Regions from separate parts of the Homo sapiens genome. Here region 1 is linked to region 2. The links come from fine-mapping of genetic effects on gene expression. A gene starts in region 2. The other region holds a variant in brackets. All regions are shown on one strand. Distances are between the middles of the regions.

What was found. PIP is the estimated chance that this variant, and not a neighbour inherited with it, causes the effect. A credible set is the group of variants that fine-mapping cannot tell apart.
Region 1: its variant is the best candidate, but not a certain one, in a credible set for the expression of ATP13A5 in nasal epithelium (TOPMed, PIP 0.63).

The regions. Positions count from the first base shown.
Region 1 is chr3:193,332,255-193,337,643 of GRCh38, forward strand. It overlaps ATP13A5 (ATPase 13A5), which reads right to left. Exons shown (of 30, transcript NM_198505.4): 10 at 2,675-2,845; 11 at 1,496-1,653. Among named protein-coding and RNA genes, the nearest start is that of ATP13A5-AS1, 28 kb to the left of the region's middle. The variant G/A (reference allele first, on the strand shown) is at 2,726.
Region 2 is chr3:193,375,596-193,380,984 of GRCh38, forward strand. ATP13A5 (ATPase 13A5) reads right to left here and starts at 3,158. Exons shown (of 30, transcript NM_198505.4): 1 at 3,068-3,158. The coding sequence starts at 3,130.

The DNA.
Region 1 (5,389 bases), 43 kb before region 2:
CTGCTTTGCCTTCCAACCATGACTGTGAGGCCTCCCCAGCCATGTGGAACTGTGAGTCTCTTAAACCTCTTTCCTTTATAAATTGCCCAGTCTCAGGTATGTCTTTATTAGCAGCATGAGAACAGACTAATACAGCAGGTCTCCAGAGGAGGCTCACACAATTAAGGTCAGGGATGAGGTCAAATCACAGGGTTGACTGATTGATTGTTTTGTTTTCCTCACATGCTCTAGATATTAATGATTCTACCCTCTAGAACCTCACCTATGTTTTTGTTAAATTAACCATCATTTTAGCCATAAATACTTTTTTAAGTATTGGAAACATGGGATTCAAGTTCAGTAGCAATGTCTGCTGGGACATCTTTTGCCCAATATCAATTTATCACAAAATTCATTACTCCCTTCTTTTCCCAACCACAGACACGGAAGAGTTTTGACCCTAAGGACTCAGCCTTGTCTAGCGCTGAACCAGTGCAGATAGAGGCAGCCAACAGAGCCACAGGTTCTGACCCACAAGAAGTTGGGGTCTGGGATTATTAGTCTTGTTGCCTCAGTGTGTATTGGATGTTAAGTTCTTCCCAGGAAACCTCATTCTCAAATACTGCCAGGGCTTCCATGAGCTTTTTTCCTGCTTTTCTGCCCAATGCTCCAGCTCCCCAGATTAAATTGGCATACTCCCTCAAATTCCAGCCCCAGTGACCTTGACATTCTGCCTAGCTCTTCACAGGCCCCATCGTGGGCCTCTCTTGACCCAGAAATGCTCCCTGGGAGCTATTTCAGATTGAAATAACTACTCAGCAGTTAAGTTTTGGCGTGAACATTGCCTTGAAATTCTTGTTACTATGTCTTTTCCCACCAATATTCACTGCCCACCTCTCTCTCTCTCACACACACACACACACAAACACACACACACAAACACACACACACACACACACACGCTCATTGATGCCACCAATTTGGACATTGTAATTAAGCCACTCACAGTTTTTCACCTGTTTGGATGTTTTATTCACAATTTTCTCTTCCTCCCCACCAGCTCACACTGTTATGATCCCAGACTTTCTTATTTTCTGGTTCACAGCAAAATCAGACTCTCAGGACCAGAAAGGACCTCAGAGGTCTTTAGTGACAACCCTTCCCTCCCTAGCCACCAGGCTATGACAAGGAGCATCCAAATGAAACCTGACACCCTGTAGCTTAAAGGGAAGTAGGTATCTCATGCAGTACCAGCTCTGTAAAAGTGGAAATTAACTTCATTTCAGACCCTAACCAGAACACATGGGAAACCCACTGATTGCATAGTGTTTTAGATATTACCTAAACACTGGGGGCAAACTAGGCATGAGAACATTTCCGCTGTCTAAGAAGCTCTTTTGGACAGTAATGATTCACAGAATGATGGGATCAAGATGTAACCTAAACCAATCCTCTGAGTTAGGTCAAGCTCTTTGCAGAATCTATACTATTGAAAAGCCTTACCCCCAGTACTTACTCCATGGTACATATATACCCCTAGGGCATAGAAAAAACCCATGACACCAAGGCAGGCCAGGAACACGATGAACTTGAAGGCATCGCTGTATAGTTTGAAGTTCAGAGGCCGGGGGTACAGGATGGATCTCACTAAGTCCCCTTTGGCTGTATTGTAACCTACATAAAGATAATCATAGATCAAGTAAGGCTGCTTGATGGACACTTGGTCTCCTAAAAATGGCTTTACTGTCTTTGAGGAAAAGAGTAGAGTGTCCTCTAACCTTCTACCTAATCATTTTATAAGTTTTCAGGTGGTTTTCATGATTTTTAACCATGAGCTTCCATGTAGGCCACAGGCTGAGCAATGCTCTAGTGTCTAGTGCCTGCTAACTAGTTTGAACATTTAAAAAAATTAGATATTTTTAATTTTAAAAAATCAGCTAGAACAACTAAATCATAAACCAAACTAAAGCATGCAGGTATCACAGTGTAAAGTGTATTTTGCATCTGTGAATAAGTCGGGTGGCAGAAACAGAGGTCAGAGGTTAGAACAGAGAGCTAGGACCAGGTCATAGGAGGCCTTCATTGTGTCACGTCATGTAAAAGACTGGGACTCAGGAAGTGTTTGCGGAATCATCCAGATTTGGTGCCACATTTGGTATGGGAAACAAGAGGAGTTGGAGATGTTATTAAGAGACCAGCATGATGGTGATGATATTAACAGAGAAAGTCAATACAGGAGGATGAATAGTTTCAGATTCGTTGGCTTTAACTGGTCTATAGGGCACCCAGGTGGAGTTCTTTATTACTGAATTTGACATACAGCCTAGCAAGCAACTCTTTGAAAGGAAAAAATCCTCATAGTCGTGGTGGCTGAAATTGTTTTTTGGTAATCACTCAGAGGAGGTGTCAAGGGAGATAGAAGCAGCGTATGGTCACAAGCAAAAAGAAGAGCATAGTTTTACCTTTGACAAATTTTACTTCACCTACACATACCCTTCATCACATAGAAGGGTTTTACCAATAAACCATTTAATTAAAAATAGTGACACTTTAGAATAATAAGTGTCTGTTTGGAAAAAAGCATGTTGTTACTACCAGAATGTGGCAGACTCCATAATCCTAAACTAAATTTCCCTAATCCAACTCTCCCCATGTTCAAGCATGAATTAAACTTACAAAAGTGGAATCCACTAACCTGTTTGCAAAACGACTGCTCGTACAGGCCCCTGCCCAGAGGGCTTGACCT[G/A]GATAACTTCTGTTCCACAGAAAAGGACGTGTTTCCTATAATCCTCCAAACTGTGACATTTCCAAGGCATAGTGTTCTCCATCTGGGGCAATGGTGTCTTTGTAACAGGTATACTTTCTCCTAAAGAGGATTGTATTTTGTTGAATCTATGTAAGCTCAGGTAGTTGGTCAGAACTGGTGCATGCCAGTTTCAAGAAATTATACAAACCACAACTAATCCGGTCTTAATGCCCATCCCATGAGTCAGATGACTGTTCATAGAGATGCTGGTGGTACAAGCAATGGTAGACTTGATTCTATTGCAAATATTTAGATTAGATCTGCCTATCTATCCTATACCTGGCCTGCATGGTTTGTTGTCATAATTTTAAAAGCAGCCTATTATAGATGAGTTATCACTGAATCATTCTCCCAAGCATTCATTAAGCCCAGCACTATTTTAGGCAATGAAGGAGCTTTCCAGCACGTGAATAGTAATTACTATTTGCTTTGCATTCACTCATTTATTCATTTGTTTATTCATTCACCCATTCATTCAGCTATTTTAGGTGCTTATTCTGTTCCAGGAACTGTGCTAGGTGCTAGGAATATGATGAACAAGAGAGACAGAAATCTTGCCCTCATAAGCTCATGGAGCAAGGTGAGAAAATAGTAGTTATTCCACATCATTTTCAGATGGATCCCATCCAAGTCCCATTTTTATCATCTCATTCTTTTGCTCAAAATCGTTAGCCTTTTCCATTGCCACTACTGAATAAAGACCAAACTCTCCTGCTAGATTGTCAAAGCCTACCATGATTCAAACATCATTGCCTGACATTCCCCTACAAAAGCTCCAGCTCAACTAGGCCACTTGCATTTCCTTTTATTGGCCCCCATTCTTTGCAGGTAGCAATTTTTTTCCTTTCCCTGGTGGCTATAAGACAGAATATTTAAGGTACAAAGAAATCAGCTCAGAGTTCAAAAAGGATACATTTCAGAGACAAAATAAAGATGTTAATAATAATTTTTGGCTCCAAGATTTAAAGAGTATTAGAATGAATTTAAAATTCCATCAGTCTTTTACTAAATGTTCAATTAGCAAGATAACTTGTCATATTTCTAATTTGGAAATAGTATTATATCAATCATAGTTATACAAATTTAGGTCTCATCTCTCTTTCTAGGTCATAACTGGGAACAAGAACTTTGACATATATAAATTTGTATACTCTTCATTTTCCTAGTGATATGTAATAGGTTCAAAACACATAGTTTTTTCTTTTTATTTTATTCTACTTTATATTCTAGGGTACATGTGCACAACATGCAGGTTTGTTACATATGTATACATGTGCCATGCTGGTGTGCTGCACCCATTAAATCATAATTTACATTAGGTGTATCTCCTAATGCTATCCCTCCCCACTCCCCCCACCTCACGACAGGCCCCGGTGTGTGATGTTCCCCTTCCTGTGTCCAAGTGTTCTCACTGTTCAATTCCCACCTATGAGTGAGAACATGTGGTGTTTGATTTTTTGTCCTTGAGATAGTTGCTGAGAATGATGGTTTCCAGCTTCATCCATGTCTCTACAAAGGACATGAACTCATCCGTTTTTATGGCTGCATAGTATTCCATGGTGTATATGTGCCACATTTTCTTAATCCATTCTATCATTGATGGGCACTTGGGTTGGTTCCAAGTCTTTGCTATTGTGAATAGTGCCACAATAAACATACGTGTGCATGTGTCTTTATAGCAGCATGATTTATAATCCTTTGGGTATATACCCAGTAATGGGATGGCTGGGTCAAATGGTATTTCTAGTTCTAGATCCTTGAGGAATCGCCACATTGTCTTCCACAATGGTTGAACTAGTTTACAGTCCCACCAACAGTGTAAAAGTGTTCCTATTTCTCCACATCCTCTCCAGCACCTGTTGTTTCCTGACTTTTTAATGATTGCCATTCTAACTGGTGTGAGATGGTGTCTCATTGTGGTTTTGATTTGCATTTCTCTGATGGCCAGTGATGATGAGCATTTTTTCATGTGTCTTTTGGCTGCATAAATGTCTTCTTTTGAGAAGTGTCTGTTCATATCCTTCGCCCACTTTTTGATGGGGTTGTTTGTTTTTTTCTTGTAAATTTGTTGGCGTTCTTTGTAGATTCTGGATATTAGCCCTTTGTCAGATGAGTAGGTTGCAAAAATTTTCTCCCATTCTCTAGGTTGTCTGTTCACTCTGACGGTAGTTTCTTTTGCTGTGCAGAAGCTCTTTAGTTTAATTAGATCTCATTTGTCAATTTTGGCTTTTGTTGCCATTGCTTTTGGTGTTTTAGACATGAAGTCGTTGCCCATGCCTATGTCCTGAATGGTATTGCCTAGGTTTTCTTCTAGGGTTTTTATGGTTTTAGGTCTAACATTTAAGTCTTTAATCCATCTTGAATTAATTTTTGTATAAGGTGTAAGGAAGGGATCCAATTTCAGCTTTCTACATATGGCTAGCCAGTTTTCCCAGCACCATTTATTAAATAGGGAATCTTTTCCCCATTTCTTGTTTTTGTCAGGTTTGTCAGATGGTTGTAGATGTGTGGTATTCTTTCTGAGGGCTCTGTTCTTTTCCATTGGTCTATGTCTCTGTTTTGGTACCAGTACCACACTGTTTTGATTACTGTAGCCTTGTAGTA
Region 2 (5,389 bases):
TAGGTTGGAAAAAACAATAAAGACCTGTACAGTGAGAATATTGATTGCAGGGCTGTTGTAAAGTTTTGGGTAAAATGAAAACCTGTGTGTCAAGCACCTAGTACCGCACCATGCCCAGGACAGTAAGCACTACCAGGATGAGAACAGGAGATGGGAATGATAACAGGGTTCAGCTCTAGAGGCCAGTGCAAGGCTTTATCTCCATGCTGAGCTCAGCAGAATCACGCAAGACTGAGCTTGCATAATCTCACAGCATCGCCCCTCCATCCACTTAGGCTCTTCATGGGTGTTTGATTGAAGGAGTTCATTATTTGCCTCGACTGTCTCTAATTTTTACCACAGTGACTCTCACGATCACAACGGATTGTTCACTTGAAATAATGAATGCGAGTAGAAGTTAGACCGGGCCACAGGGAATCTTCGGGGAAGGAAGAGCAAGTGGGGCGAGGCTGTCAACATCAGAGAGCGACAGCCCCCAAGGCTGGGACTAAACCATGCCCAGGTTTACTTTGACCTACTGATTGTTTTCAAAAGATGAATTTGTTTTCAAAATTTATCATCAGGCTACATCACATAAAAAGTCAGATTTCTGGCTTCCCTCGATTTATTTATTTTTTACCTTTTAGATTTAAAAACATCTATTTCTAGAGTCTGGGAAGTCCAAGATCAAGGTGCTGGCAGATCCAGTGTCTGATGAGGACCCTCCTTCTGGTGCATAGACTGCCATCTTTTCTCTGTGCCCTCACATGGTAGAAGGGACAAGGGAGATCTCTAGGTTCTCTTTTCTTTTATTTATAAGAAAAACAGGCTTTTGCTATGTTAACCAGACTGGTCTTGAACTTCTGGCCTCAAGAGATCTTCCCACCTTAGCCTCCCAAAGTGCTGGGATTACAGGCATGAGCCACCATGCCTGGCCAGGGGTCTCTTTTCTTTTTTTAATTTCCAACTTTTATTTTAAGTTCAGGGGTACATGCGCAGGATGTGCAGGTTTGATACTTAGGTAAAAGTGTGCCATAGTGGTTTGCCACACAGATTGACCCATCACCTAGGTGTTAAGCCCAGCATCCATTAGCTATTCTTCCTGATGCTCTCCCTTCTCCCATCTCCCACCTTCTGATAGGCCCCAGTATGTGTTGTTCCCCATCCGGCTTCCTTCTAAAAGGCTAGCAATTGCAAGATCAGTTCAGCAATTGCCTGGAGCTAAGTCACAGCTTCCACAGTTCGGTCACCCCAGCTCCCTCAGGCCTAGCGGAGTCTGTGGATTACCTGATCAACCAGAATAGGATTTGCATCTGTGCTCTACGCCCCAGAATTCTGAAAAAGAAATCTAGAGCCATCTCCCCTTCCCCACAATGAGTTAAGCTTACTTGGATTCCTAATAGACATTTCTGGTGAGTGTCTGTAAAAGGGTTTGATCACCTGCAAAAATGAAGAAAACTGGGGCACCTGGCTCATTATTTAATCCTATGATACCAATGTCCTGTTTGTGAGTGAGAGAATTAAAGTATCAGGCTATAAACTTTACAAATAAAGCAACTAGTTAGAGAAGAATAAAGAGCAATGTAATTTTTCATGCACTCTTATCTACATGTTGAAAACATCAGAGCTAACAGAATTGTTCAGCAGTGAACACAGGTGAATAGATTTTCATTCTTTAAAAGCTTTAATTCTGAAGATTTTAAAGTGCTGTGCTATTGTCAAGCTTAGCGTGCTACAATAATGCAAGCCACAAATATGAGCTGCCTTCTTAATATTAACGTTCCTAGCAGCCACATTAAAGATGTAAAGAGAAGCAGGTGAAATTTTTACCTAAGCTATCTAAAATATTGTCATTTCAATGTGTAAACAATATAAAAATTATTAATAAGATGTTTTACTTTTTTTTACTAAATTCTTCAAAATCTGGTGCGTATTTTACACATAAAGCATATTTTGTGTGGACTAGCTACTTTTCTAGTGCTCAGAAACTACACGTGGCCCATGGCTGCCTTATTGAACAACATAGATGTAGATGAAATCATATGTTTTCCTTAGAGTAGCAAACAGGGATAGGTGGAGGGAGAGCCGGTATGGATTTGCCCCAGATCTCACAGGGAACCAGGATGCCAGCCAGGAAACTGACATCATTCTAATCTACAAACCATGTTCTCCAAGTTCTTTGGGGCCCCCAAATGTGCCCTCACTCTGACCCTTCCCCTGTCTGTCTCTGTCTCCTTTCTTCATTGTCTAGCTGGAGCCACTGTTGTATGGTGAACAGCACAGGATGTGGAGAAGGAGTCGGCTGGATTCCCAGCCTGTCCCTTGCAGGCTAATGACCTTGGGCAAGTTATTTAACCTCCCTGGTCTCAGATTTCTTTTCAATTAAATAGGATTAGTTCTTTCATCACTGAGGTCTGAGGATTATATAAAATCATAAATATAAACACCTCAGCACCAAATAAACACTATAGTTTTCAACTTTTTAATTATTATTTTTAAATGTGTGTGTGTGTGTGTGTGTGTGTTTGATGAAAACAAGAGTGGGGAAAAAATTGGAGACATGAGAAATGTTTAAAATATGTGTTAAAAATCCCAGGCCACATTCTACTCCTTCTTTAGTAATTGATGCTTAAAACTTCTCTCTGCGCTTATAAAAAGCATGACTTCAGCCCAGAGCCCCCTAAGCCTAGGTTATGCATACATACCCAAAGCACGAGAATAAAAAAGAGTTCTTGTTTTCAATAGAGTTTGTTCCATCACATAGCAATCCAGATAATAAGGGGGAGACACCCCACTGAGCACCATGCGGGGCTCTGCAAATACTGTAAATGTGCGAGGAAACATCACAGGTTCATATGAAGATGGCAAGAATTCTATCATCCAGAGGTCACAAGTTTCTCAGCCCCTGCAGGTTTCCCCACAATAAAATGGTGCTTTGCAGCCCTTAAGGAACCTTACCAGACTGAAACCTTTCAAGGTCCTAAAGCCTGAAGCATAAATGCTACACTCTATTTTCTAATTCAGCTGTAGCCCATACTCACCGCCTTGGGCTCTTTGAGAAGACTAATAAAATAAAGGGAAGACTCACCAGTTCATCCTCCTCTCCCTGGTTGAGCAAAGCCCGATGGTCCTTCTTACTGTTCTCTTCCATCTGAACTCAACCGGCGAGGATCTCTTCTGGCTAACTCCTTGGAGAAATGTCAAAATCCCTTGGGCTTCTGTGAACTTGGAATCGTCACAACTTGTGATTGCTCTTCCCAGGCGCTTTTAAAATCTCTTAGTACACACCTTGCCTATTAGACTAACAAAGGAAAGAGAGAAAATCTTCTCAGGAACAGGATTGGTCTGTTAATCTGGTTATTGTGGGTTTTTTTCCTAGTGTTTGTTTATTGAGCTAGATATGAGTGCCTCAAGACCTGAGGAATGACGGGGGAAGAAGTTGGCAAACTAGAAGGAGAAATCATTTTGTATGCGATCCATAAATGTCTCAGCCAAGGAATGAGAATAGTCACTTTGCTAAAAACCTAAGATAAAAGGATTAGCCAGTGAGAGATGTATAAAAACCCTGCAGACTTTGAAAAAGTAATGAACATATTGGGGGTGACAATGAGAATTGAAGGAAGGGAGGTAGGCTCATGATAGAGAATGTAGGAATCATTTTGGAATTAGAAAAATCTGAGTTCTAATCCGTGCTTCACTGAAGACCCTGGACAAATCACTTAAAATCTGGAATTTCAGTTTCTAGTACATAAAATGTCAATAATAACTATACAGTAATATAAAGATTTAAGATGATAGTCATAAAAAGCCAACGATAGCACCCACCACAGTCACTAAGAGAGAAATAATCATCATCATAATCATTACACTAACCAAGAAGAAAGAGGCTTTAAAAAGTAAACTATATTAATAACTTGATTCTTTTCATTTTCTCTTTAGAGTTTACAAAAGTTTTCAAATGAGCAAAGTATGTGGAGGGAAGAGATGCTAGAAAGTCCGAGGATTAAGGATATAGCCCAAATTTCAACACCACTGAATTTGATATTTTGATTAGAAAATAGGTATACTGTGATCCATTCCAGAGTCAGTTAATTTGTTTGTGATGAAAACTTTTGTCATTTTATTGGCTCTTATTGTATCCTTGCACTTTGACTATGGAAGAAAATTTGCTGGGAATGAAAACTATTAGGGATGATACTTGGCTGTTTCTGCTGACTGAAATAGACACTGATTGCCTTGAGCAGGCATAAGTGTCCAACTTGGTGTTCAGGAGAGATCAACGTGCTCTCTGGCCAGGAGAAAGTGGCTGATGAGAATAAACAGGAAGACAACTAGAGCTCTTCATGCCAGAGGCTCCCGAGGTACCCATACTGAAGTATAATGTGCCGGTGTGAATGTTGCCTTGTAAGTAGTACCAATCTAAGGTAAAATGCATATTTGAAGAAAGGAGTTCTGGATTTTAGTAAAACTTCATTAAAGACACGAGTGGTGGCTATCATTCACTTCTTACCCATCCGCTATTTACTTGTATTTCTTGCTGAAAGAACCCCAACTTTGTGCAGCATGACTTCAGCTAAAAGCACCAAGATGAGTCAATGATTTGTCTATGGGTCGGCGTGTGGCCCAGTTCTAAACAATGAAATAGAAGAGAAAGACATGGTCTTGTGGGAAAGGTTATCTTGTTGATGAAACAGAGAGAAGAACATTTTTTTCTGTCTTCCCCTTTCTGCCTTTCTTTGAAAGTGATCCATGAAAATGCAATGCTTGGAGCATGGTAGCCATCTTTAGGTGGTGAGGAGGATGCAAATCACCATGAAAATTACGGTGAGAAAAGGACAAAAGAAGTTATATGCCTATAACACCACTGATTCATGGACCTACCTACCCCTAAACACCACATTAAATACACAATTAAACATTCTCATAAAGCCACTCTTGCTTGGGTTTTCTGTTACATATAGTCCAAAGATATACATAGCACTGGTCTTGACTCCATTCCACTTTTACTCAACAATTATGTACTGGAAAACAGATGTTCCAGACATTGTGCTAGGCCCTCGAATACAATGGTGTAAAGGAAAGAGCCCCTATCCTGAGAGAGTTTATAGTTACTTGGGAATGACAGATAACTAAGCAGCCTCTTAATTGGGAAATATACTAAACTCAGATTTAATGGAATACAAACAGGTTCCCAAAGGAAGTGACATTTATTCTGACATCTCAAAGATAAGCAGAAGTTAACAGATAGAAAGAATGGGGGATAGTGGCATCTGGTGAGCACAGTCTAGGCTGGGAGCAGAAGGTGTGGAAAGGGTCAAGCGAGGTGGGAAAGGAGCACCTATTCGGGGCATTAAGGGGAATAAAAGTAAGACTTGAGACTAGAAAGATGGGAAGTGATGAGTAATAATTA